7 linked regions of the Homo sapiens genome follow. The protein of the gene in region 5 purifies or fractionates together with the protein of the main gene of each other region. This does not show direct contact. Each region holds a gene or a part of one and is shown on either strand. Other genes may lie near its edges. The genes, in order: IBA57, METTL2B, CYRIB, PTER, MTPN, ACSF3 and RAB11FIP5.

The links.
Region 1: the proteins of MTPN (region 5) and IBA57 purify together in Homo sapiens (affinity purification with mass spectrometry; one large-scale study listed by BioGRID and IntAct). This does not show direct contact.
Region 2: the proteins of MTPN (region 5) and METTL2B purify together in Homo sapiens (affinity purification with mass spectrometry; one large-scale study listed by BioGRID and IntAct). This does not show direct contact.
Region 3: the proteins of MTPN (region 5) and CYRIB purify together in Homo sapiens (affinity purification with mass spectrometry; one large-scale study listed by BioGRID and IntAct). This does not show direct contact.
Region 4: the proteins of MTPN (region 5) and PTER purify together in Homo sapiens (affinity purification with mass spectrometry; one large-scale study listed by BioGRID and IntAct). This does not show direct contact.
Region 6: the proteins of MTPN (region 5) and ACSF3 purify together in Homo sapiens (affinity purification with mass spectrometry; one large-scale study listed by BioGRID and IntAct). This does not show direct contact.
Region 7: the proteins of MTPN (region 5) and RAB11FIP5 fractionate together in Homo sapiens (co-fractionation; one large-scale study listed by BioGRID). This does not show direct contact.

The regions. Positions count from the first base shown.
Region 1 is NC_000001.11:228,164,625-228,168,603, forward strand, and holds the start of IBA57 (iron-sulfur cluster assembly factor IBA57, mitochondrial isoform 1 precursor), read left to right. Parts: upstream 1-1,179; 5' UTR 1,180-1,192; coding exon 1,193-1,533; intron 1,534-3,979. UniProt on the Homo sapiens protein: Mitochondrial protein involved in the maturation of mitochondrial [4Fe-4S]-proteins in the late stage of the iron-sulfur cluster assembly pathway. Operates in cooperation with ISCA2 in the maturation of [4Fe-4S] proteins.
Region 2 is NC_000007.14:128,483,248-128,486,747, forward strand, and holds part of METTL2B (tRNA N(3)-cytidine methyltransferase METTL2B), read left to right. Parts: intron 1-3,500. UniProt on the Homo sapiens protein: S-adenosyl-L-methionine-dependent methyltransferase that mediates N(3)-methylcytidine modification of residue 32 of the tRNA anticodon loop of tRNA(Thr)(UGU) and tRNA(Arg)(CCU).
Region 3 is NC_000008.11:129,845,561-129,849,060, reverse strand, and holds part of CYRIB (CYFIP-related Rac1 interactor B), read left to right. Parts: intron 1-2,186; coding exon 2,187-2,257; intron 2,258-3,500. UniProt on the Homo sapiens protein: Negatively regulates RAC1 signaling and RAC1-driven cytoskeletal remodeling. Regulates chemotaxis, cell migration and epithelial polarization by controlling the polarity, plasticity, duration and extent of protrusions.
Region 4 is NC_000010.11:16,510,010-16,514,245, forward strand, and holds the end of PTER (N-acetyltaurine hydrolase), read left to right. Parts: intron 1-1,036; coding exon 1,037-1,247; 3' UTR 1,248-3,736; downstream 3,737-4,236. UniProt on the Homo sapiens protein: N-acetyltaurine hydrolase that regulates feeding by catalyzing the hydrolysis of N-acetyltaurine into taurine and acetate. N-acetyltaurine has anorexigenic and anti-obesity effects that are dependent on GFRAL receptor and GDF15.
Region 5 is NC_000007.14:135,970,860-135,974,359, reverse strand, and holds part of MTPN (myotrophin), read left to right. Parts: intron 1-3,500. UniProt on the Homo sapiens protein: Promotes dimerization of NF-kappa-B subunits and regulates NF-kappa-B transcription factor activity. Plays a role in the regulation of the growth of actin filaments.
Region 6 is NC_000016.10:89,138,852-89,142,351, forward strand, and holds part of ACSF3 (malonate--CoA ligase ACSF3, mitochondrial isoform 1 precursor), read left to right. Parts: intron 1-2,215; exon of another isoform or gene 2,216-2,425; intron 2,426-3,500. UniProt on the Homo sapiens protein: Catalyzes the initial reaction in intramitochondrial fatty acid synthesis, by activating malonate and methylmalonate, but not acetate, into their respective CoA thioester. May have some preference toward very-long-chain substrates.
Region 7 is NC_000002.12:73,078,449-73,081,948, reverse strand, and holds part of RAB11FIP5 (rab11 family-interacting protein 5), read left to right. Parts: intron 1-285; coding exon 286-2,298; intron 2,299-3,500. UniProt on the Homo sapiens protein: Rab effector involved in protein trafficking from apical recycling endosomes to the apical plasma membrane. Involved in insulin granule exocytosis. May regulate V-ATPase intracellular transport in response to extracellular acidosis.

The sequences.
Region 1 (3,979 bases), on a different chromosome or scaffold from region 5:
GACCCTGGCCTGAAAAAAGCAGAAGTTACCAAGGATGTGATTTGAAGCTGTGATTGTGTCTCATCATGTCACACTGATTAGGGGTGCGGAGGGGTTGTGGGCTGGATGGTGCCTGTCCTTATCCGTGGAGACACTTGGGGATGGAGCCTCCTGCCACCTGCAGCTGAAGTCCCAATGGTCCAGCAAATGAAAAAAATGACACAACAGCCACACGTGGACGCTGGCGAACTGGTAGGAAAGAGGAAGCGGCCGGGTGCGGTAGCTCACGCCTGTAATCCCAGCACTTTGGGAGGCCAAAGCCGGTGAATCGCTTGAGCCTAGGAGTTTGAGACCAGCCTGGACAACATGGGGAGACCATTTCTACAAAAAAAATACAAAAATTAGCTGGTGTGGTGGCTAGCGCCTGTAGTTCCAGCTACTCAAGAGGCTGAGGAGGGAGGACTGCCTGAGCTCTGGAGCTTGAGGCCAGCCTGGGCAACATAACCAAGACCCTGTCTTTACAAAAAATAAAAATAAAAATAAAAATAAAAATAAAATGCTGATACATGCTAGACCGTGGATGGACTTTGAGAATACTATGCTGAGTGAAATAAGCCGTCGCAAACGACAAATCCCGTAGGATTCTGCTCCTGTGAGGTCCCTAGAGGAGGCACGCTCATGGAGCCAGAAGGTACAATGGGAGCTCCAGGGCCTCGGGAGTGGGTGTTTAACAGGGAGTTTCAGGTTGGGAGGATGAAGAGGTTCTCGAGATGAGTGACGGTGCCCGACATGGGTGGGTGAAAACGAGGAAGGCCACCGAATGGGACATGGGATGGCGCTTAAGAGGCCGGCAGAAACCTCGTTACCTACCGAGGGTGGAGCCTGCGTGCTGACGGATAGGCCGAGTCCCCGCCCCGAAACACACCCCGCGCACGATGCTCCGCCCCACACGCATGCCCCACCCACCCAGCAGGCACGCTCGCCCCGCCCGCCCCTTCCAGCTCGGGAGGCCCTGCTCCTCACGCACGCACTCTCAGTCGGCCTCAACCGGCGCTGCTCCGCCCCTCAGGCACGCACGTTCCGTTCACCCCTCACGCACGCACTCTGCGCCCGCCCCTTCCCGCCTCCCTCCGGCGGCCACCGCCAGGGGCCGCTGTGGCACCCGCCCCTCCCGCTTCCTTGGGCCCTTCCCGCTGCCCCACTCTTGTCCAAGATGGCGACCGCGGCGCTGCTTCGAGGCGCCACTCCGGGGCGCGGCGGCCCGGTCTGGCGCTGGCGGCTGCGCGCGGCCCCAAGGTGCCGCCTGGCCCACAGCTCCTGCAGTCCTGGTGGCGACCCAACGGCCGGAGCGGCCTGGGCCTGCTTCCGGCTGGACGGGCGCACCCTGCTGCGCGTGCGTGGCCCCGACGCGGCGCCCTTCCTGCTAGGGCTGCTGACCAATGAACTGCCGCTTCCGAGTCCTGCGGCCGCGGGGGCCCCGCCTGCTGCGCGCGCGGGCTACGCCCACTTCCTGAACGTGCAGGGCCGGACGCTCTATGACGTCATCTTGTACGGGTGAGCGCGTGCTGGGAGGGCGCTCGGGGGCGGGCACCCAGGGGAGTGGCCAGGGACCGGCACCCAGGGACAGGGCGGGCGCCCGGGGCCTGCAGAGGGCGTGGGGGGTGGGCACCCGGGGAGGGCCGGGATGGGGTGGAAGCTCAAGGGTGGGTGGGCCAGCGACTGGCACTCAGGGTCAGGCACCCAGGAGATTCCACTTGGGATGGACACCCAGGGGAAGCTCACCCAGGGCCCAGCACCCGGGGGAGGGCACCCAGAGGAGGGCTTGGCTCAACACCCAGGGATGGGTCAGCGACTCATCCAGGGGAGGCCTGGGGGCCAGCCCACCATATCAGAGCAGAGGCGTCTCTAGGTGGGCACCTCCCAAGTGGGCCATCTGGTGACCCTTCTCCCTCCGCAGGGACAAGGGGTTCAGGGGCCCCGCCTGGTGGCAGAGCTGTGTTTCTGAGTGACAGCTTGTGGTGACACTCCCGAGTTCTGTTTACCTTGTGTTTCCCTGTGTCTCCCCATAGCTGGTCACATTGGCATTTGGCTCAGTCATCTGTGCTGACATCACGACTGTCAGTGATGTTCATGCCGGGTCAGGGCCTTGACTGCTTACAGCCTTGGGTTTCCCTTGCCCAGCTTCCAGGGACCTGGATCCCTGAAACCTCCGCCCGGTGGAGTGGATCTGGTTCGCGGCCGCCTGCCTGCTGTCCCTGCTATGGCGGACCCGGTTCTTGTTCTCTTCAGCTTACTCCTGTGTTTTGGTTTCAGGGGATGGACACCTTTTTAATGACTTCCTGAGCTACGTGGGGTGAATTTTTGGACTCATTGTGTCTCTGCTAGTGGCTTTACCTGATATCCTGGCTGGGTGTAAAAATCTAGCTTGGAAATTGTCACCGACAATGTTCACATCACAACTTTGTTTTCTCGCTGCCAGCTTTTCTGAGAAGTCTGGTGCCGTTCTTATTTGTATGTGAACTGTGTTTTTCTCAGAAGCTTTTCTTTATTCTTGATGTCGTGAAATGTCATGCTGATGTGTCTTAGTTTGGGCTTTTTCCATATCACATCTCTGGGCACTTAGTGGGCTCTTTAAATCTAGAACCAGAGTTGGTGAAATACGGCCCTGAGGTCAGACCCAGCCCATTGCCGGTGTTTATAATAAAATTCTCTGGGAACCCCACCCGTTGGATTCCAGGTGGTCTGGGGCTTCTTTTTTTTTTTTTTTTTTGAGACGGAGTTTTGCTCTTGTTGCCCAGGCTGGAGTGCAATGGCACAATCTTGGCTCATTGCAACCTCTGCCTCCAGGGTTCAAGAGATTCTCCCGCCTCAGCCTCCCAAATAGCTGGGACTACAGGTGCCTGCCACCATGCCCGGCTAATTTTTGTATTTTTAGTAGAGACAGGGTTTCACCATATTGGCCAGGCTGTTTTCACACTCCTGACCTCAGGTGATCCACCCGCCTCGGCCTCCCAAAGTGCAGGGATTACAGGTGTGAGCCACTGTGCCCGGCCTGGGGCTGCTTTTGTCTGGAGTGGTAGAGTTGTGGCACGAGTGTGGCCCTCAAGCCTAAGTTATTCACTGGCCCTTTACAGAAAAAGTGTGCCCACCCTAGCTCAATAGGCTTAAATCTTCATGTCCCAGTTCAGAGATATAGTCATCATAGTCTGTCTTATGTATTCATTACATTCTGTCTAGCTGCTTTAATTTCTTCATCTTAAGAACTACATTCTTTGATTCTCTGGAGCCTTCTATGTTAGTACTTTGCTGTTCACATGTTAGCCTTACAATGATGTTGATTTTGGTCCCCAAATTCCCTTCCATATTTCTATAGTCCTCTCTTGTCCTTTTCCCTTTGAGTCCTAGTTCAATTGAATTCCTATTCTTAATAAGTGTTTTGTGGTGTAAAGTACAGCTGACTTTGCACTACATAGGTCACTTATGCGTGGATTTTCCTTCACCTCTGCCACCCTGAGACGGCAAGACCAACCCTTCTTCTCCTTCCTCCTCCTCAGCCTACTCAACATGGAGACCATGAGGATGAAGATGTTTATGTTGATCCATTTCCATTCAGTGAAGTGGAACTACATTTCCTCTTCCTTAGGATTTTCTTCCTGGGATTTGTAGCTTACCGTATTGTAATACAGTATATAATAGCATAAAACATAAAAAATATGTGCCACTTGACTGCGTATGTTATGCATAAGGCTTCCAGTCAACAGGAGTCTGTTAGTAGTTAAGCTTTTGGGGAGTCAAAGCTTAAAGGTGGGTTTTCAACTGTGTGGGGGCCAGTGTCCCTAGCCCTTGCATCATTCAAGGGTCAGCTGTCTGTCCTTTCTGTGTCTCAGGGCTTTTTCCTCTTCATCCTTTCTTGCCTGGTCTGGAGCTTGTCTGCAGACCTACTGGGCCCCAGCTCCCCTTACCAAGCATATGCTTGGTGGCTCCTCTGTGTCTTTCTATT
Region 2 (3,500 bases), 7.5 Mb from region 5:
TATCTTACTAGAACCCACTTGTTCATGTAATTCACTGGCTTAGAATTGGCATGTTTTCTACTGCCTGTGAATCAGGTTTAAATTGTTGGGCATAGTTTTCAAAGTCCTCTACAAGAGTGTGCCCTATAAAGTATGTCCTCTTATCCCTCAGTGCACTGGTCACACCTTGCATGTCTTCCCCTGACTCCGTACCTTTCCAAAATGTCCTTTGTTTCTACTACTCTATTTCCTTCCTTCCTCACATTCAGATCAGAAGCATCTAGAAAACTTCCCTAGTTGTTATCGTCCAGCTGCCTCACTCTGCAGTCTTTTTCGAGACAGTCTCACTCTGTCACCCAGGCTGGAGTGCAGTGATTCGATCTCGGCTAGCCGCAACCTCCGCCTCCCAGGTTCAAGCAATTATCCTGCCTCAGCCTCCCGAGTAGTTGGGATTACAGGTGCCCACCACCACGCCCAGCTAATTTTTGTATTATTGATTGATTGATTGGTTGATTGAGACGGAGTTTTGCTCTTGTTGCCCAGGCTGGAGTGCAGTGGTGCGATCTTGGCTCACCGCAACCTCTGCCTCCTGGGATCAAGTGATTCTCCTGCCTCAGCCTCCCAAGTAGCTGGGATTACAGGCATGCGCCACCATACCCAGCTAATTTTATGTTTTTAGTAGAGACGGGGTTTCTCCATGTTGGTCAGGCTGGTCTCGAACTCCTGACTTCAGGTGATCCACCCGCCTCAGCCTCCCAAAGTGCTGGGATTACAGGTGTGTGCCACTGTACCCGGCTAATTTCTGTACTTTTTAGTAGAGATGAGCTTTCACCATGTTGGCCAGGCGGGTCTCGAACTCCTGACCTCAGGTGATCCACCCACCTCGGCCTCCCAAAGTGCTGGGATTACAGGCATGAGCCACCATGCCCAGCCCACTCTGCAGTCTTTACAGCCTTTTTATGTTTCTTGAGTTACCCTATTGCCTAGATCCTTTTTTTTTTTTTTTTTTTTTTTTTTTTGAGACAGGATTTCTGTCACCCAAGCTGGAATGCAGTGGTGCCATCACAGCTCACTGTAGCTTCAACCTTCCAGGGTTCAGGTGATCCTCCCACCTCAGCCTCCCAAGTAGCTGGGACAACAGGCGTGTGCCACCACCCCTGCTAATTTTTGTCTTTTTTGTAGAAATGGGGTTTTGCCATGTTGCCCAGGCCAGGGTTCTTAATATTTTTTTAATGTATCTGATAAAGCCTTAGGATCATTTCTCAGGCTAATGTATTTTTCATTTGTTTTCTTTTTATATATAACAGCTTTATTGAGATATAAAGTGTGTAATACAGTGGTTTTTTTGTTTGGTTGGTTTTTTGTTTTGTTTTGGTTTGGTTTTGAGGTGGCATCTTGCCCTGTCGCCCGGGCTGGAGTGCAGTGGCACGATCTTGGCTCACTGCAACCTCTGCCTCCCAGTTTCAAGCGATTCTCCTGCCTCAGCCTCCTGAGTAGCTGGGATTACAAGCGCCCGCCACCACACCCAGCTAATTTTTGTATTTTTAGGATTCACTGTGTTGGCCAGGCTGGTCTCGAACTCCTGACCTCGTGATCTGCCTGCCTCGGCCTGCCAAAGTGCTGGGATTACAGGCGTGAGCCACCGCACCCGGCTGTAATACAGTGGTTTTAAGTTAATTCACAGAGTTGTGCAGCCATCACTGCAGTCAACTTCAGGACATTTTCATCACCCCAAAAAGAATCCCTATACCCATTAGCAGTCACTCCCCATTTCCCAATTTCCCCCAATCTCTAGCCCTAAGCAACCACTACTCTACAAATGCACAAATCTCTATATAGATTTATCTTGGGCTAATTTTAAGTATATGAAGTAAAATAGAGAAAATCAATTATTTTGAAATACAGTTCTATCCTCAGAGCCCAATTAAGGACTCTGATTTTAAAAATAATACTCTTAGCCCTTCATATTCACCTTTTCTGCATCCGAGGATTCAAGCAACCATGGATTGAAAATAAATAGTATAGGCCAGGCGCAGTGGCCCATGCCTATAATCCCAGCACTTTGGAAGGCCAAGGAGATAGGATCACCTGAGCCCAGGAGTTCAAGACGAGCCTGAACAACATAGTGAGACCCCGTCTCTACAAAAAAATTAGCCGCCTGGTGCTGCGGCTCACGCCTGTAATCCCAGCACTTTGGGAGGCCGAGACGGGCAGATCACAAGGTCAGGAGATGGAGACCATCCTGGCTAACACAGTGAAACCCCGTCTCCACTCAAAATACAAAAAAAAATTAGCCAGTCGTGGTGGCAGGCACCTGTAGTCCCAGCTACTCGGGAGGCTGAGGCAGGAGAATGGCATGAACCCAGGAGGCGGAGCTTGCAGTGAGCGGAGATCGCACCACTGCACTCCAGCCTGGGCGACAGAGTGAGACTCCGTCTCAAAAAAAAAAAAAAAAATTGCCAAGCATGCTGGCATGCACGTGTAGTCTCAGCTACTTTGGAGGCTGAGGCCAGAGGATTGGTTGGGGCTGCAGTGAGCCATGATCACACCACTGTACTCCAGGTGACAGAGCAAGACCCTGTCTCAAAAATCAATAAAACAACAATTTTTAAAACTATAACTGTTTACATAGCATTTATATTAGGCGTTATAGATGATTTAATGTATGCAGGAGGATGTGTGTGGGTTGTATGCAAATGCTACACCCGACACCATTGTGTAAGAGACTTGAGCTGGATACCAAGGGACAACTATATGACCTGTAGAAAACTTAAAGAAAAGCACAGGCCGGGCGTGGTGGCTCACTCTTGTAATCCCAGCAGTTTGAGAGGCCAAGGTGGGTAGATCACCTGAGGTCAGGAGTTCGAGCCCAGCCTGGCCAACATGGCGAAACCCCATCTTTACTAAAAATACAAAAATTAACCAGGCGTGGTGGTGGGTGCCTGTAATCCCAGCTACTCAGGAAGCTAAGGCAGGAAAATGGCTTGGACCCAGGAGTGGAGGTTGCAGTGAGCCAAGACCACGCTATTGCACTCCAGCCTGGGTGACAAAAGCAAAACTCCGTCTCAAAAAAAAAAGAAAAGCACAAAGAGGCCAGGCACAGTGGCTCATGCCTGTAATCTGAACACTTTGGGAAGCCAAGGTGGGCAGATTACTTAAGGTCAGGAGTTCAAGACCAACCTAGTCAACATGGTGAAACCCTGTCTCTCCTAAAAATACAAAAATTAACAAGGCATGGTGGTGGGCACCTGTAGTCCCAGCTACTCAGGAGGCTGAGGTGGGAGAATCACTTCAACCTGGGAGGCAGAGGCTGCAGTGAGCTGAGATTGTCCCACTGTACTCCAGCCTGGGTGACACAGCCAAGACCTCGTGTCTCACAAAAAAAAAAAGAAAAACATGAAGAAGAAAACAACGCTTGCCAGGCGCGGTGGCTCACCCCTGAAATTCCAGCACCTGGGGAGGCCGAGGCAGGTGGATCACCTGAGGTCAGGAGTTTGAGACTAGCCTGGCCAACATGGTGA
Region 3 (3,500 bases), on a different chromosome or scaffold from region 5:
GAATAGAATGATCAAAGGATGACTATATTGTCTAGTGAGTACCTCCTGGAAGGCTTCTACTACGTATTTGGCAATATAAATAGATAATTAGATATAAGGAATTTTGAGTCATATCCTTTAATTCCTTTGGCCAAAGGCCATTTCAAATAAAATGTTTATTTCAGAATGCATATAAAAAGTCAGTAGTGCTGCTGGGCGTGCTGGCTCATGCCTGTAGCCCAAGCACTTTGGCAGGCTGAAGCAGGAGGATCACTTGAGCCCAGGAGTAGAAGACCAGCCTGGGCAGCATAGTGAGACCCCCATTTCTACAAAAAAAAAAAAAAAATTAGCCAGGTGTGGTGGCACACATCGGTAGTCACAGCTACGTTGAGAGGCTGAAGTGGGAGGATCCCTTGAGCCCAGGAGTTCCAGCCTGCAGTGAGCCACGATCACACCACTGCATTCAGTCTGGGTGAGAGAGAGACCCTGTCTTGAAATTAAAAAGACAGCCAGTAGGATGCTCCAGTGGAAAAAGATGAAGACTTTATGTATTTTCCCTCCCCTACCTAGTCATAATAATTTGTGACTATAGTTGGCTCTCGACTTTTCTTCTCTCTGTAAAAGTTTGTATTAGAAATAGTTTTCTAATTTCTCTACTTCGTAGTTTCTTTCCCCAACCTCTCACATCTAGTTCATTAGTGTTTGGTGAGAATTGTCTTCCCGTTTCCCTTTCATAGCTAGTTTAGGCTCTTAGCATTTCGGATCTCGATTACTGATTACTAGCCAAGCTTGTTGCCTTCATGTACACCTGTCATATGTAAAGAGAAATGAGTTAATATTTACTGTATGGTTGCCATGTCCCAGGAATTTTACGTTTGTTCTCCCTTGTGACTCTGAAAATACTCTTTTAGGTGTCATCTCCCTTTACTGACAGGGCAACTAAAGTTTAGCAGATCAAGTAATAGAATTGCTAGTAGGCCGGGTGCAGTGGTTTATGCCTGTAATCCCAGCACTTTGGCAGGCCGAGGCAGGCGGATCACCTAAGGTTAGGAGTTCAAGACCAGCCTGGCCAACATGGTGAAACCTCATCTCTACTGAAAAAAAATACAAAAATTAGCTGGGTGTGGTGGCACACATCTGTAGTCCCAGCTACTCGGGAGGCTGAGGTGGGAGAATCGCTTAAATCCAGGAGGCAGAGGTTGCAGTGAACCAAGATTGCGCCACTACACTCCAGCCTGGGTGACAGAGCGAGACTCCATCTCAAAAATAAAAAGAGTTGCTAGAAAAGGTAGAACCCACATTTCTCTGGCTTCCAAAGCCTGTGTTCTTTCTGCTGTATTATGCTTTTTTATAACAACCAGGCTAATATATCTTAAATACCATCGTCATCAAGTGGTTACCTTTTAAAATAACCTGTGAGTCCCCTGCTGCCAGGCATAACACTTCGTATAACTCATCCTGGCTTTCAGCCTCTCATAACTCCAGGTGCAGTGCTGAAAAATTCCTATCTGTCCTCTGTGTGATACTTTACTCTGTGAGGTTTCTCTACCTGAAAGTTCTTCTTTTCCTTAGTAACATACTCATTCTGTCCTTTATTTTTTATTTTATTTTATTTTTTGTGACGGAGTCTCGCTCTGTCACCCAGGCTGGAGTGCAGTAGTGCGATCTCGGCTCACTGCAAGCTCTGCCTCCTGGGTTCACGCCATTCTCCTGCCTCAGCCTCCCGAGTAGCTGGGACTACAGGCGCCCACCACCACGCCTGGCTAATTTTTTTGTATTTTTAGTAGAGACGGGGTTTTACCGTGTTAGGCAGGATGGTCTCGAACTCCTGACCTTGTGATCCGCCCGCCTCAGCCTCCCAAAGTGTTGGAATTACAGGCCTGAGCCACCCTGCCCAGCCCATTCTGTCCTTTAAATCGCCACTCAGCACCTTTTCCAGAAGTCTTCCCTTAGCAAACCGTTTGTTTTTCATTGCATGTGTGGTATATTAGTTTGACTGATTTTGTTCTCAAAAAGATTTTGTTTTCACTAAGTGAGAATAATAACTCTTAGGTTGGGTTTTTTTCTGTTCTAAGAATAATTAATTTGACATAGTATGTAATCTCTTGAGTTCCATAGTTATGGTCTTGATTTATTTTACTATTTTGAAAAGGAATGTTACATGAAAAAAATGGCTGTTTTACCTTTTCTGTTTTCTTTTTCTTTAGATGAAAGGTTGTATCAAAGTTCTTAAGGACCAACCTCCTAATAGTGTGGAAGGTCTTCTAAATGCTCTCAGGTGTGTATATGTACGTGTACGTATGTACAGAAAAAATCTGTAAGGAAAATGGTCGATGTTTATGTAAAGAAAATGCATTAAGTGTGAATAGGATATAAAAATAAGTGTTCAAGCTAGAAATATGAAGATCTTATTTTGTTTATTGATAATCTTGCTTCCAAACACTGGTTACGGTATTTTATGATGAGGAATGTGTGGGACACATGACAATAGCAGCTTCATTTTCTGGTTGAAGATTTTGGCTTTTACTTGTTGCTTCTCTTCAAACAGAGATTGCTTGTTTTTGTAATAAAAGTATTATATACCAGTTATAAATAAAATTCAGAAAACATAAGAAAATGTAAATAAAAAGAAATAATGTAATCTCACCATTTTGAGATAAGCCACTATTAGCATATAGCCTTCCAGAGTTTTTTCTTTACATATATAGATAATAGCTCTATGTAGTAGTTATCTTTTTACAAAATAATATCTTACAAAGTGGCTTGTAACTAGCTCTTTCCTCTTAATAGAATGTAATTACATTTGTGCTCAGACTTGTGTTCTGTTATTTTTATGTATTTCCTACAATAAAAATTAAGTAGTCATTATTTAATGTCTTTTCTTAGATTAGTTTTACTTAATTTAGTTGCTCAAACTTCTACAAATGCTAGAACATTATTTCGTTATTTAGAGTTGGAATCTCGCTCTGTCACCCAGGCTAGAGTACAGTGGCACAATCTTGGCTTATTGGAACCTCGGCCTCCCAGGTTCAAGTGCTTCTCCTGCCTCAGCCTCCCGAGTAGCTGGGATCACAGGCATGTGCCTGTATTTTGTATTTTTAGTAAAGACAGCGTTTCACCATGTTGGCCAGGCTGGTCTCAAACTCCTGACCTCAAGTGATCCACCCACCTTGGCCTCCCAGAGTGCTGAGATTACAGCATGAGCCACTGTGCCCAGCTGCTAGAACATTTTTAAATGAAAATCTCGATACTTTATAACATTTGACTACAGAGATTTAATTGGTAGTATTCACATGACATAAAAGATGATGTCCCATTACTTGATTTTTTGAGGGTTTAAACACAAAAATTACATGAACACAGAAATATTTATATAATGATATTTACCACATAAAATGTAGGCTGTATCATTTCAGCTAAGCGGAACTGTCAAATGATTTTATTAAGATTATGAAAAAATGTTTAAAAATAGTTTTTAAAAGATTATGAAAAGTGTTGCATAAGCGGTAGCTGCCTGAATA
Region 4 (4,236 bases), on a different chromosome or scaffold from region 5:
TTGAAACAAAAAAGATACCTTTCAAATAATCAGCCTCTGGAGGAAGGCACTGTCCGTCCGTCTAGATCCACTTTAGAATCTAGACGCCAAAAAAACTATTCAGAGAATCCCATAGAAGAGCCATTGTCTGTGAGTGGCATCTTCTACCATCAAAGACCCATGGAAGTCACGACAGACACTGCCCAGAGTCCAGACACGTACAGATGGTGGCTGTCAGGAGGTGACTCACACTACAGATTCCAGCATTTAACAAAGCAAAGAGGATTTCATTTTTAGAGAATAGTCAGGAAGCTGTTCTTTAGTCCACTGACTATAAATTTAAAGGAACAGCTTATTATTTTAGCAATCTTGCTGACATGGAAAGAAGACAGAATATATTTGTATTGGTCAGTTTAATCCAATGCTCAGAGGCTACAACTAAATCAAAATTGCCATAGACTTCAAAGGGGCAAATGGTTAAAATGCTGACCAACCTTTTTTCAGTGGCTTTGTAGCTTATCAAATGCCCCTCACTTGCAGACCAACTGATTTTGCTCTCAGAATATTTTACTTGTAGTGAGATTCCTTTTGTTTCCCTATTTTAATCGCAAACAGTCCTTGATATTTTTTGGCCAGATAAAAGGAGAGAGCAAGAATGAGATCTGAAAAATGGGCCCACAGGGAGAGGCATTTGAGAGAGGATTGCTGAATACAAATCCAGAACAAAGTTATTTAGTGAAATGCCAAAATGGTCATTCATCCAAACTGGCACATCCTATTAGAAGCTATCTTTAATGCGGTATTGCCAGGCATGGTCATAAATGTCACAGGTTAGAAATTTCTGTATGCATGGAATAAGGATATGTTCCTGCTAGGATGCAGCAATATTTTTATCGTCACCACACAATATTTATTAAAGGTCTCTCAGTACACACGCCACAGTAGAAGTCAGTATCTTTACGACAAGCACAATAGGTTAATGAGTAAAAAGTTGAAAGCATCCTGAAAAGCGAAAATGAAAGACAAATGACATCTAATGAGTTAACATTTTTCACAGGGTGCGTCTCCTGGTGGAAGAGGGCTGTGAAGATCGAATTCTGGTAGCACATGACATACATACGAAAACCCGGCTGATGAAATATGGAGGTCACGGCTATTCTCATATACTCACCAATGTTGTTCCTAAAATGTTGCTGAGAGGCATAACTGAGAATGTGCTTGATAAGATTCTAATAGAGAACCCTAAGCAATGGCTAACTTTCAAATAGGATGGTTGCTTATGAATTCACACCTTGAGTATAAAACTTGCAGAGAACATTCAGCGATTTCCAGTCCACTGTGAGATATTAATCAGTTACCTAGGACTAATGACAGATCATTTCCTTCTGATGAGAACTAGGAGGGTTTGCCTTCTCTGAGACCAGCTATTACAACTGTGCCTCTAGGGAGTTACTCAGCCTAATTGAGCCCTATTATTTTAACTTAACAAAATAAATACAGAAGTACCTATTTCTAAACAATGATTTAAAGTCTATATCCCCTAAGCGGAGTTGTTGTTTTTCTCCCTAATCTATCAGCTGCACTACTTGAGAAAATTTAAAGTGTTTCTAGTTAAATTATTTCCTTCTTGAGCGATCTAATGTTTCTTGTAATATTGATGATCCTACTAATTATCCTGCTGTTCTTTAATTAATGCTTAATGAATAATATGGCACTGTAAAATAGCTTCTGCAACAAGGGAAGTTAAATTTTGAGACTTTTTTCCCCAAAGGATACTGACTGTAATACAATTACCAATTCACAATGATAAAAATATTTTGAAAGGTTAATTTTATACTGTCCACCTATCTATATATTCTTCTACTGAAATGATTTTGATATCTTTGGCTTTCCGGTATCTATTTTTGCCATACATTTTGCTGTTTTGCAAAGTTTGTATAAGAACACATAACACTACTGAATTATAAAAATTCAATCATAAAAGTCAAAATATATTACATAATATAGTTTAATGAATCATTACATTTATAATAACAAAGGCCACAATTTAATTAATTGGTAAGATATAATGCAAAAAAAAAAAGAGAAATGTTTGCCTTATGTATATTCCCTTTATTTCCTTTACCTTTTGTTTTTCCTTGGACCTAAACAGAGAAAATAATGCTTATGTATCTGAAGAAAAGGTCAGATCTATTGGAAATGACAGCCCGATACTTGAGCCTCCTCTTTAAAAGGTATCCAGCCCTGATATTTTGTGTAAATAAAATGTTTTTAAAACCTGTTAGTTAAAACACTTAGGTGATGGGCACTGCTGCTTATAAATTCATCTTTTGGTTGAATCCTCACTATGCTATTTGGTACCTAAAAATATTCTCCAAACCCTTGCTGCCAGTTCCTCTTTGATAAATATATAGTTAATTCGAAATAAAATCCATTGCAATTCATTTATGAGTTATCTTACATATCACAAAGACCAATTAGAATTAGTCATTATTCTTGATGAAGAGTCTGTTTTTAATCATAAAAATCATGACAGTTACTCAGACCCAGGCATTTCAACAGAGCTAACACCACCTTCAGATAGGCACACCATGCATAACTCTTGGGAAGTTGAGCTTTGCTAAATAAAAGATATTTCTGCTGATCAAAGATGATCAAGCTTTCTGTGTATTGGAACAGAAAGTAACAAAGAGGAATGAGCCAGGAGAACAAACTAATTCCTTTAAATAAATAAAAAAAAAAAATGCAAATGTCCTTCACCAGTAAAGCAAGCAAATTTTTAAAATCTCTGTTTTTGAAATCTACTCGTCAAAGAGTTTTCAGAGGCAATGAAAGGGGAACAGATTTTTCATTGTAATAGTGGAAGTTGTGTGATAGTTAGGAGATATCAACATGCATTTTTAATCTTTTCCTTAGATGAAAGAGATGGCTTTTGGCAGTGTGTTCTAACCAGAAAGAAAGGATTTGTATTACTCTCCAAATCTACTGTACTGTCAGCTTCACTCCACCTGAGAAAAAAGAAAAAAAAATTGATAGCTCAAATGCATGTAATTCATAAACACTGCAAAGGAGAGCCACTTGGTGTCTGCAGTCCTCATATTAACAGTCTGTCACAGAATGCAGTTAAAGTATTGATTGGCATATGGTAATAGAGCAACCATAGCCTTAACTTACAGACCTGTGAAATAAAGGGCATTTTGACCTAATACAATTAATTTTCTGGATAACTCTTAAAGAGAAGTCATTTTAACTGTTTTTGCTACTCCATATATTGTCATTCAAAATATATTTTAACCCAAAATAAGTTAAATAATTTGTGCATGTTTGTGTGTGTATATATGCATACACTTTTTTATATTAAAATTTTGAGGCTATACAGCCACTGTGCCCTGTGGAATAAAGCCATATATATAAATGTTTTATATGTATATGTTTTATACATAAATAAAACATTTCATCTAATATATATATGTGTGTGTGAGTATATGTGTGCATGTTTAGCAGATATTTGTATAAAATATAAACACTCTGTTGTCATATAGGCTATATGCGAAATTGTTAATTTTAAAATAACCTCAGGCCACAGACTTGTAGTAATCATTTGAAGGCCTCACCTAGTGTCCCCTTGGTGACGTATGCAGCAGCTCAAATTAAACCTTTGTGCATTGGGTTATGAATAATCTTTTCTTCCAAAGATGGCAAAAGCCTCGGTTTGATTTGATACTAAAGAATAAATTTCTCTGACTTTCCCAGTGAATCTAAATGTATTCAGTTGACAAAATGGACACATAAGGGCTTTTTCTAAATACCGTACATAATTACACATTTTCACACTTAGAGGGTAATCCTATGATACACTGTCAATCTCTATTTTTAAAGACTATCACCAGAAAAGAGAGAAAAGAAAATTCATATAAGAAAAAGAAAATGTGAAAAAGATCATAGGCTTGGGAATTCCCTCAAATCCAGAAAATTCCAGGTTAAGGCTTGAAGTTGAATCATTCCCAGGTCTAGCTCTAAGGTTAACAAGAGTACAAGGCAAACAATTTCTTTGGGGACAAGCAGCATTATTTCAATTAGACCTTCTCCTGCAGGGCAAAAATCATTCTTCCCCACACTATGAATGGACTCCAAGTATCATAATAAGCAGGTAAACTCACAAGAACCAAAGCTGACATATGGATAAAAGCAGCAAGATCACAGTACACCAAAGTATCATATATATAGAAGAAATAATTCAATGTCTTAGATTTGTCT
Region 5 (3,500 bases):
GTTGTACAGGCTGGTCTCAAACTCCTAGCCTCAAGCGATCTTCTGGCCTCGGCCTCCCAAAGCACTGGGATTACAGGTGTGAAAGCACTGGTTCACAGGTGTGAACCCGTTTTTCCTTTATAAATTAGTATTTTTAAAAGTCAGTAATTACACTTTTCTACCTGCCTCTGACTTCTCTATTAAAGTTCGAAGTGTGAGTATCCCTAAATCATTGGTTTTAGGTGAGTTCTTGAACTTAGAAAAGTCAGTTCACAGTCCCCAAACCACTGAAAATTGTATTTTGAAATGGAAAAGACAGTATTGAGAGAAAAATTTAGATTATTTAGAGAAAAATTTAGATTATTACATTAAATGTTTCATGTATAACTTTAAGACAATATCTGAAGCAATTTTAAAGTCTTTCAACACTACATTTGGCTTCTTGACTGACTTAAGGACCACATTTAGTTAATTCATTCATTTTTACTAGGCATCTTTCAGGTCTTAAACTCTTTAGTAGTCCTGGGATGATAGTACAGAAGTTCGACACAGTTTTCAGGAAACGTAAGCATCTATATTTAGCAGACCTGCGTGAAAAAAAATTCATACTTTTATAGTAGTATGCAAATTATAAATAACATCTCATTTTCATAAAATTCAGTTGTCCGGCTGGAAAACAAGTGAAAGCCAGAAAATAAGGTATTCATGAGCAGCTATAAGAGATATTCATAGCCCCATTTTTGATCTGGATGTTTCTTTTGGGTGACATTATTTTTGACTTTGTCTTACATTTCTGCCTTTATGTTCTCCTGTTGGAGTTAATTCTAGCCTCACCTGAATTTCAGACTGCATAAGCTCTGTTCAGACAAATTCCAAATTGAGCTGTTTTCCTCTCAAAAACTGTTTTTATTCCTATTGTGTCTCCATTTTCACTAATGGTATCATGACCCAACCATTTGTCCAAACTGGAAACTGGGAAATTTTCCTAGATTTCTGAGGGTTACCAAGACTACCTTCTTAGTCTCCCTCATCCATTCCTCACTCTCCTTTCTTCTTACTACTTTAGATCAGTTGCTGCTTCTTTCCAGCCTGGACTATATTTTCTTTCTTGACTATAAGAAAATAGTCAAGAAAGAATATATAGTCCAGGCTGGAAAGAAGCAGCAAAAATTGACCCCTTCCTGGTCAGTTTACACAGTTTAGGTGGAGGGATCTCTCAATAACATGAATATAAGCATGTAATCTTTTTCAGCCAGTCTCCTGCACTGCCCTTAAAATATTAATACTTTTGTGATTTCTCACTGCTTATTTTAAAAGGGCCAGCTCCTCATTGGTATGGTGTACTAGGCCACTATTATCTGGGCTTGCTTTTCTACACTTGCCTCTCTCTAAGCACTCTGCTCCAGACCCTGCCATCCTGTTTCTTCCTTGTAGATCTTTACATGTGTTCTTTCATCCTCCCTGACCAAGTCTGCTCACCTCAATCCCTAACCCCCAACCTGTTAAACTCCTATTTACCCTCCTAGGGTAAGTATCACCTCTAACAGAAAAACACCATACCGATGAGGAGTTGGCCCTTTTAAAATAAGCAATGAGAAATCACAAAAGTATTAATATTTTAAGGGCAGTGAGGGAGACTGGCTGAAAAAGATTGACTTCACATAGAGTGCTGCTTCTTTTACTGTTTTGCTCATCAGATTGCTGTGATTTTGTTTACATGTGTCTTCATTAGGCTCTGAACTCCTGGAGGGTAGATAATATATTCTTTTTCATCTTTCTGTCTCCAACATAGCGCCAAGGAATTTTACACATTAAAATCATGTTTCTGGTAAGAAATTCATTTTATTCTTAACTTAGCAATAATTTCAGCATACTTCATTAATTACAGAATAATAATTACCATTGACTGGATGACTTACATTGTCAGGTACTGGAAAGCACTCTGCAAGATGTTTTACCTAAGTTTTTATTTGCTTCTTACCACAGTGTTTCAGTATAAGTAATAATCTTATTTTAAGGATGAAGAACCTGAGGCTTAGAGAACTGAAGTAACTTGACAAGGTCACAAACTAAGTAGCATAACTGGATTTTAAACCCAGAACTGTCTGAATCTACATGGGGTGTGTGTGTGTGTGTGTGTGTGTGTGTGCGCGCGCGTGCGCGTGTGCGCGTGTGTATTTATAACCATATCAGTTTGCTTTAAAAGTGGTTTTTTTTTTTGCTAACAACACTTTAGAATTAAGAAAACGAGAAAGAGGCTTGTAAGAAGCCGGTACAACTAATTAGCTCTGACTGTGAATGAAGACAAAAATGGCAACCGTATTTTAAAAATTGTAAATGTAACAATTCAGAAATAATTAGTATAGAGACAAACATCTCTGTAAACTTAAACTCTCATCAGAGACTGTCATTACTCAAGACGTGTCCATAAGAGTGACTGATAGCCTGCAGAATGTTTTGTATTTATGGTCACATATAATCTAACCTTATAATTTATGTTCCTAATTGTGATCCTACACAGTCCAGAAAAAGTTAAATTTTGTTTGTTTGCCTTAGGAAGAAACAAAAATAACTAAATTATTGAGATTTCTATTCATAATTATTTAAATAAAACAAGTAACATTTTGAAAAAAGTATGTTTATTAAATTTTATGTATTTGAGGATTGTGATGCAGTATACAGGTATTATTTCATTTACTTATCAACAGTAAGCCATGAGCATTATTAATAATGTTAACCCCATTTTAGAGATTTTAGAGGCAGAGATTAAATAACTTGCTCAAGATCATAAAGTTCTTAAGTGGTGAAGCTGAGATGTGAACTCACTTCCTTGGGTTCTGAAGGAGTTTCAAAAGCCCCATGCTGTTAACTACTTCAGCATACCCTTGACCTTCATTTCTCAATAAGGCCAGAAACTAGGGGGGTACTATATTATTGAGTAAATAGTAAAAATAATCATAGCAGGATGGTAATTATCCATTGAGACTACTAAAAGGTGAGCTTTCTGGTGGATTTTGAGGATCCAACATGCTTACAGGTGAGTGCTTGTGAGTTGCATTGATAAATAGCCCCTTTTAATCTTCAGCAGGTCTGATACATGTACTCTCTTGTTTACATGTACTTCTATTTCACTTGCTGTGAAATAGAAGCCTGGTCTCTAACTTCCCTTTCTCTGTGGTTTCCTTTCCCTCCAGCCTCCATTCTAATTACATCTGCCGTTGACACTCTAATAGGTTTGAAAAGCAACAATTGTGCACCATGTGAAAGGATAGAATCTCTTGAACCTGAGAAAGATATCAACTCTAATCTTTAGAAATTCCAAGACTCATTGAGATCACTTTTCACTTTCCTAATAAAATAGCCAATTTAAAAGAGGTCCTGATTCAATCTACTTTGCATTTATTGGTTTTAGGCAGCTTCCCTTTTTTTTCTTCTTTAAATTATTAGTTTCTTTCTTATAAAAATGTATCACTGTGTGTTGCCCTTTCTACAGAAGGGCTGGTGACCTATTCAGAAAGCAT
Region 6 (3,500 bases), on a different chromosome or scaffold from region 5:
TGAGTGTTTTTACATTTTTATTTTTAAGCCAAAGTTACACACCTGTGGCTTAAACACCCAAGTAGTTGTAGCAGTTTGAGAAGAAGAATCACAGCCGTGCCCCTTCCCCAGACTCGCCGGCTGCTGCTTCTGTGCGGTCCCCGCATCCCGAGGGCCGCCAGCACCGCCACCTCCAGGCTCCTTTTTGCTGCCATGGCTTGAGTCCCGCAGAGGAGGCCCCTCCTCAGGCACGGCCCGGCTCAGTCCCGTATGGCATCTGCACTATTGAGACTATGGAGTCGCCGCTGAGAACTGAGCCCAGGAGACACTGAGGTTTTTCCTCTTTCTTTGTTTTCCAGAGTCGGGAAAGTCTTGGTTTTCTTGGTCTCCTGGTGCCAATTCCTCGTGGGCTGGGCTGGTCTCCCCATGGCGCCTCCTTCCCCATCACCACCACCCCTTCCCTCCTACCGGGTCAGGACGTCGGCTCCCAGCCCACAGCATCCTCGTCTTCCCTCTTCCGCCCCCAGCTGTGGGGACTGCTTTCCCCTGGGGCTTCCTGAGGCGGGTGTGTAGGGTCCGTACTTGGAGACTTGCGTGTCTCTCCGGGTCTTCGTTCTGCCCTCAGCCTTGCTTGTCGGTTTGGCTGCGTATAGGGTTCAGGGTTAGAAGTCGCTTCTCTATCATTTTCTGGCCTTCAGATTTGCTGCTGCCACAGCCGTGCTGAATCCTGGCACTTGGTGACCCCCTCCTTTTTTTTTCTGTTTTTTTTTTTTTTTTTTTCGAGACAGAGTCTTGCTCTGTCGCCAGACTGGAGTGCAGTGGCGCCATCTCGGCTCAGTGCAACCTCCGCCTTCCGGGTTCAAGCAATTCTCCTGCTTCAGCCTCCCGAGAGTAGCTGGGATTACAGGCGCCCACCACCACACCTGGCTGATTTTTGTATTTTTAGTAGAGACGGGGTTTCACCATGTTGGCCAGGATGGTCTCGATCTCCTGACCTCGTGATCTCCCCACCTCAGCGTCCCAAAGTGCTGGAATTACAGGCATGAGCCACCGCACCCAACCATGACCCCCTCTTTTTAACGTACAGGGTGTCCTCTGTCCCCAGACCCCTGAGCCCAGGTTGAGGAGCCACCAGCTGAGGACGGAGCCAAGGTCACGGAGCTGCCGGGTGAGCGCTGAGCCCAGGTCAGGGAGTTGGGTCTCAGGCCGTCACTGGGACTCCCTCTGCCTTCAAGAAGCCTCTTTCACCCTTGGCCCACAGAGGAGACCTGGATGGCACTGGGGTCCAGGTGCAGAAGCCTCCAGTGTCCACGGGCACCTGAGCTTCCAGCACCTTCCCTCCTGCTGGGCGGTGGCCTGTGCCTGGCCGCAATGGAGGCCGCCTTCCCCACTGCCCCTCTGAGCCTCAGTCTGTCCTCCCTGCAGCCACCTCCCCTGGCCAGGTGCCCCGGGGTAACTGGTGGAGGCTTTCACGTAACTTGGTTTCCAGCTGCCTCTGTACACACACAGGCACCTGTTCCAGGCTTGGCCTCTCTGTACACACACACGGGCACCTGTTCCAGGCTTGGAGGCTGAGAACTTGGGGGCAGAGATCTCAGGGCATCGGCTTGGGCGGGGTCCTTGGGCAGGGCCTTGGGCTTCCCTCGGCACTTTCCTCAAGGACTGGGGCCAAGCTTCACATTCTGTTGCTGGCATCAGTGCCATTTGGGAGCAAAAGTCCGACAGGCTGGGTCTGGGCCTCTCTTCACCTTGTTTCCTGGGATCGCGCTTTGGGTGCTGGTGTCACTCCAGATCCAGGCTCGGGAACCACATCTGCACAGCAGAACAGGCGCTGTTCTTATCTTGCGTGCGGGTCAGGACATCCCCCCGGCCAGGAGTGCTTCCTCCGAGGCCCACAGACAAGTTCTCGCTGGGGGACTGGGGACCACAGCACCTCACTCCACCTACACTCTAGAGAATTCAAATCTGAGTATTGGAAGATTTATTTTCAGTTACAGTGGAAGGCAGAGACATGAAATAGCACCAAATTCAAAAGCAGCTCATAAATCCAGGTAATAGGAGTTTATTGATTGCTACATTGTATCTGTCAGAAGAAAACTCCTTTAATGAACACATCAGGCCGAGGACATACACAGCCCATTGGCAGCCGACTCCGATTCCAGAATCGATGCATTTTGATAAATAGGTTGTTATGGAAAGTAAAGGTTATTTAACTTGTTTGACTTGCATTTCACAGTGATCGCAAGTTGCCCTGGAGCCCTCTGAACCTTCTGAGTCGCCCTCGCTGCCGCAGGACCTCCTCCCGCGGGGTGTCCGACCCGCTCTTGCTTGGCTGAGACTTTGTTTAAACCCTGGCTCCGATGCCTCTGAGCCCTTGATAGCAGCGTCCCAGCCTGGAAGAACAAAACCAGCCACTTTTCCCCTTGGCAAAGGCACAGCAAGGCGGGTGAGGCGGGCGCTGAGTAGTCTGGGAATGGGCAGGGAGATGTCGACCCTCGGAGCTGAGACTGCTCTGTGCTGAGAAGCTAGAACAAAGCCTGACATGTTCCAAGGGGCAAGCTCAGGGCTGGGAGGGAAGCAGCGGGGCCGCCCCTTTGGGTGGGGGTGCCCAGGCCTTGCAGACAAGACACTGGCCAGAGGAGGTGGAGCAGGGGTACTGGGGCAGAGGGGCCATGTTTGTGCAGCAGGATGGACCCTGGAGGGCCCCGGCCTAGAGGGGGCCTTTGCCAGGAAGATGCCAGGAACGTCCAGGCCAAGGCGTCCGGGCAAAGGCATCCAGGCCCGGGAGACGCATGTGGGACTTGGGCTTTCCTCTGTGGGCAGTGGGAAGTCTCTCCCTACCCCTGGAAGGAGCTCCAGGCAGCAGTGAGGATGGGGATTCTGACACTGGAGTGGGGAGCCGGCCCTGTGGTGCTGGCTGGGCTGAGAGCGGCACCACCTTCTGATGCCCAGGGTGGGAAGGACACACGACTGCCACCATGCACTGAGGGCCCTGCACGCCACACACGTGCTCTGAGCACTGAGGGTCCCCTCATGCCACGCACAAGTTCTGGGCACAGAAGCACCTCTCAGAATCATCCCCGAGACAGGCGTCCATCACAGAGACAGGTCTCAGTCCTGCACTGATTGGCTTCGCCCAGTGCTGCTGGGGGAGTCTCAGACACAGCCTTTTTCCGACAGGTATAGCTGCCACTTTCTCCGGCACAGAAGCCTGGGGCCCTGGGAATGGCACCATGTTGCGCGCCGACCCCTACGGTTCTTCCCTCCGCATGGCTCAGTGGAAACCGTGCGTGCAGCACAGCAGGCAGCTGGGGCCTGTGACGACCCTGGGGTTGGAGGCCAGGCAGGGCTATCACTGAGAAGCAGGGATTTGGGGCCTGGGGCCCAGGGAATGGACAACTCCCCAAGCTGCCCCCACCAGTCCTTCCTGAGCACTGGCTCTGGAAGAAGCATCTCGGGGCAGAGGCAGCCAGGCCCAGGCAGGGAGAGACCCCCAAACAAGGCCTACAGCAGGGTCTCAG
Region 7 (3,500 bases), on a different chromosome or scaffold from region 5:
CACTTGGTTAGGTTTGGATCGGATCCTGCCTATCAGATGAGATGATTTCTCTCTGGGGTTGGAGTGAGCATTAAAATAGCTTTGCCTGGCATATTTCTCCTTGGGAGGCACTTGATAATGTTACATGTTGGGGTCTTCCCTCTGTACCCTGGCCCAAGTAGGTAAATCCAGCCTATGTGTGTGTTATGGCCCCTGGTCCCGAAGCAGGGGGTGGGGCGTGGGACTCAGGGGCCTTTCCAGTCTTGGCATTAACCAGGAGGCTCACGGTTTTGTCTCCCTCCACAGCCTGGACGTGTCTCCTCAGGTAGAATCTGACCCAGCTGCTCTTCCTCACCACCTCCCCTGCTCCCCCTGGGCTCCGGCCCCTCCCACTCCTGCTCCCACTGCTGCTCCCATGCTAAGCACTAACCTTTTTGCAGCCGCCTCCCCCGCTGCTGCCACTGCTGCCGCTGCCGCCACCACCGCCGCCCCTGAAGCCACCCCACCTGGATTATTGGGTCTTACCAACCCGTTCCTCACCTCTTTGCAGAGCAACCCCTTCTTCGAGGAGCTCATAGCCGACATAGCACTAAACTCTCCTTCACCTGCTCCCTCTCTCCCCAGTGCCTCGAGGGCCAGCCCCACCCCCCTGGCCTCCCCTGGGAAAGCCCTGCCTGAGTGGGACAACACCTTCAACGTCTTTGCTGCCAGCAGGCTGCGTCCAGAGGCCAGGAGCGAGATCCTGGCCCCTGCAGGAGTGGGGCTGGAGGCGGCAGGGCTGCAAGACCCAGGCCCTGGGGCCATGACTGCGAAGGCAGCTGAGCCCCAGGGAGAGCCTGGGGGAGGAGGAGGAGGAGGAGGAGGAGGAGGAGGAAGAGGTGGGAGCAGCGTGTGGCTGGAGCCCAGGGTTCCTCTGGACTTGGGACCGAACCACCAGAGCGCGAGCGCGGCTGACCCAGGGCTCCTCGGGTCGGTAGGGGCTGGCCTGCCCTCCTCGTCAGCCCAGCTACAGCTGAGAGCCTCAGGCTCAGAACCAGACAGGGAACTGCCAGCCCCGGAAGTGGAAGCAGGGCAGAGTCCGGCAGACAGTGGGACATCTCTATTTAGCTCCCCAGAAGTGATCAGTGTGTGGGAGAGGCTGCCGGGCCCAGAGAGCGCTGCTGAGGGCCAGGACGATGAGTCCTCCCGAGGCGAAAATCAGCTTTGCCCTGACGTCGAGACAGCTGATGATGCCTGGCCTTGGGATGTGGTCACCATTTCTCCTGCAGCTGAGACAGCCTCACTAGTCTTTCGGGGAGAGTCTGATGAGCCTGCTCCCCAGGTGCAGCCTGAATCACCAGAAACTGTGAGCCCCAAGGGGAGCGAGGGGCTTCCCCCACCGGAGCCCGAGCCTAAACCCGAGTGGGTGTCTGACAAGGGGCTGCAGCCCAGCACCCCACCTCCCAAGCCACCGCGCCTCTTCACACCCTCAAGATCCCAGGAGGAGGAGGAGGAGAAGGCCGCAGTGGGGCTGAGTAACAGGGGGCCGGAGACAGAGGGAGAAGATGCCTCCCCAAGTGCACTGGTTGTCGGTCCCCCGGAGACCAAGGAGGAGGGAGAGAAGCGTGAGTCGGAGGAGTCTGACAGCTGCTCCTCTGCAACCCTGCTGGGCCAGCCTGGCCTGGAAGAGCTAGTGGAGGATGCCAGCCCCCCTGTGTCTGGGCCCTGCCTGTCTGCACCCGCCAGCTGCCCTGAGGGTCCTGCCCCCATACCCTGTCACTCAAAGAGCTTGGCTCTTCAGAGTCAGCACATCTGGGGGACTCCAGAGGTTGGAGAAGGCCCTGAGGCTCCTGAGGCCCAGGGCCAGGATCCAGTAGGAGAGGGGCTTGGGTCCTTGTCAGCCACCTCCCAGCAGGCTGATGTGTGGGTCTCCAAGGAAGATGCCTTGAACCCCTTCTTGTTTCAGGGGAGCCGAGATCCTCCCAGCCTCTCATCTGCATCCCCGCCAGGGTCGAGGGAATCTTCTATTCATTCTGGTCCAGAAGAGCTGCCCACTCCCCCAGAGCCTGACTTTCCACCGCCCCCTCTCCCGCCTTGGGCCAGCCACCACCGTGGGGGGCCCAGCCCTCCATGCTCTCCCCTGTCTGAAGCCTGGCCCCTGACTACCTCCTCTGCACCACCAGGGGAGCCAGCCTTACTCCCTGGCCCCCATGAGCCCTCCCCACCTGGGGGCTCCCCTGCCCTACTTAGGGAGGACCTCGCTGCAGCCACCCCAGCCTCCCCGCTTGTGCTTCTGCCCTTGGAGACACGACCAGCTGAGGAGCCACAGCCCAGTGCCAGGTGAGCATCCACCCCCAGAACACTGTCCAGGAGGAAGGGGGTGGACAGGGGGCAGAACAGCCCAAGGGACTGAGGGGTTCACACTCCAGTCTCATCCTTTGTGGGGCAGGTGAGGGTCTCTTTTACCCCAGAGGCAAGACGGTACAGGCTTTGAAGACAGGAGCTTTCTATGGTACCACCTCTGAAGCTGCTGTCTTGGGACTTGGGATAATCAAGGCAGCCCCCCACAAGCCAGGGGTTTGGAGAACAGCACTGATGAGGTGCAGGGTATAAGGAATGAAGTGGGGAGAGCCGATGTGGGCTGGCAGGGAAGGAGAGCAGTGCTGTAGGCCCTTCTGGAGTGTGTGCACTCAGCCGCAGGGGAGCTGTGGGTGGGGGGCGGTGGAACTTGTCAATCAGGGGGTAGTTCTTGGGGCAGACCGTGGCAGAGCAGGCTGGCAGTGGAGCCTTGAGCAGTTTCCTATTCTGCTAGAGTGAGGGTGCAGGCTGGGGAAGGCAGAGAGCCAGAGGAGGGACCAGCACTTAGGTCAGAGAGAAAGCTGCAGACACCTTCAGAAGAAAAAGGAAAACTCAAACACTTCCCACATATGTAACTCTCAGAAGAAAGGTTCCCCACGCGCAGCAGTTGCTTCATTGGTTTGCGTTTGGTGCCTTTTAAGGGGTGGTTCTGATGCACTTAGGACCGCTGAGTGGACAGCGGATGCCTGTGTGACTGTGCTCACTGTGGCATTGGGAGGTTTGGAAGAATTATGAAGCTGTGACCTCACCAGGTGGCTGGTCAGGGGTGATGTGGGCAGAGGCCTGGAGACTCAGGGCACTGGGAGGTGATGGGGTGTGACTTAGAAGGCAGCAAGTCCCTCTGGGACGATAGCGCTCTAGGAGGACCGAGTGAAGGGAGGGGAGAGCAGGGCAGGCTCCAGCACTGGCCTCCCGACCAGGCATTCATGTTTGGTCATCCACATTCACTGAGCACCTACTATGTGTCAGATGCTGAACAGATGAAAGACACTGTCTCCACTCTGTTCCCAAGGAATGTCCAATCCACTGGGGAAGATAAAGTGGACCCAAGAAGGGAAGAAACCCCAAGGGGCCAGAACTACATATGGGAAGTGGGTGGGAGGGAGTCCAGGCTGCCCCCAGTGTCCCTCCCTGGTGGTGGTGGTGACTCTCCTCCCTTGAGGTGAGGGAGAGGATGTGGGGGA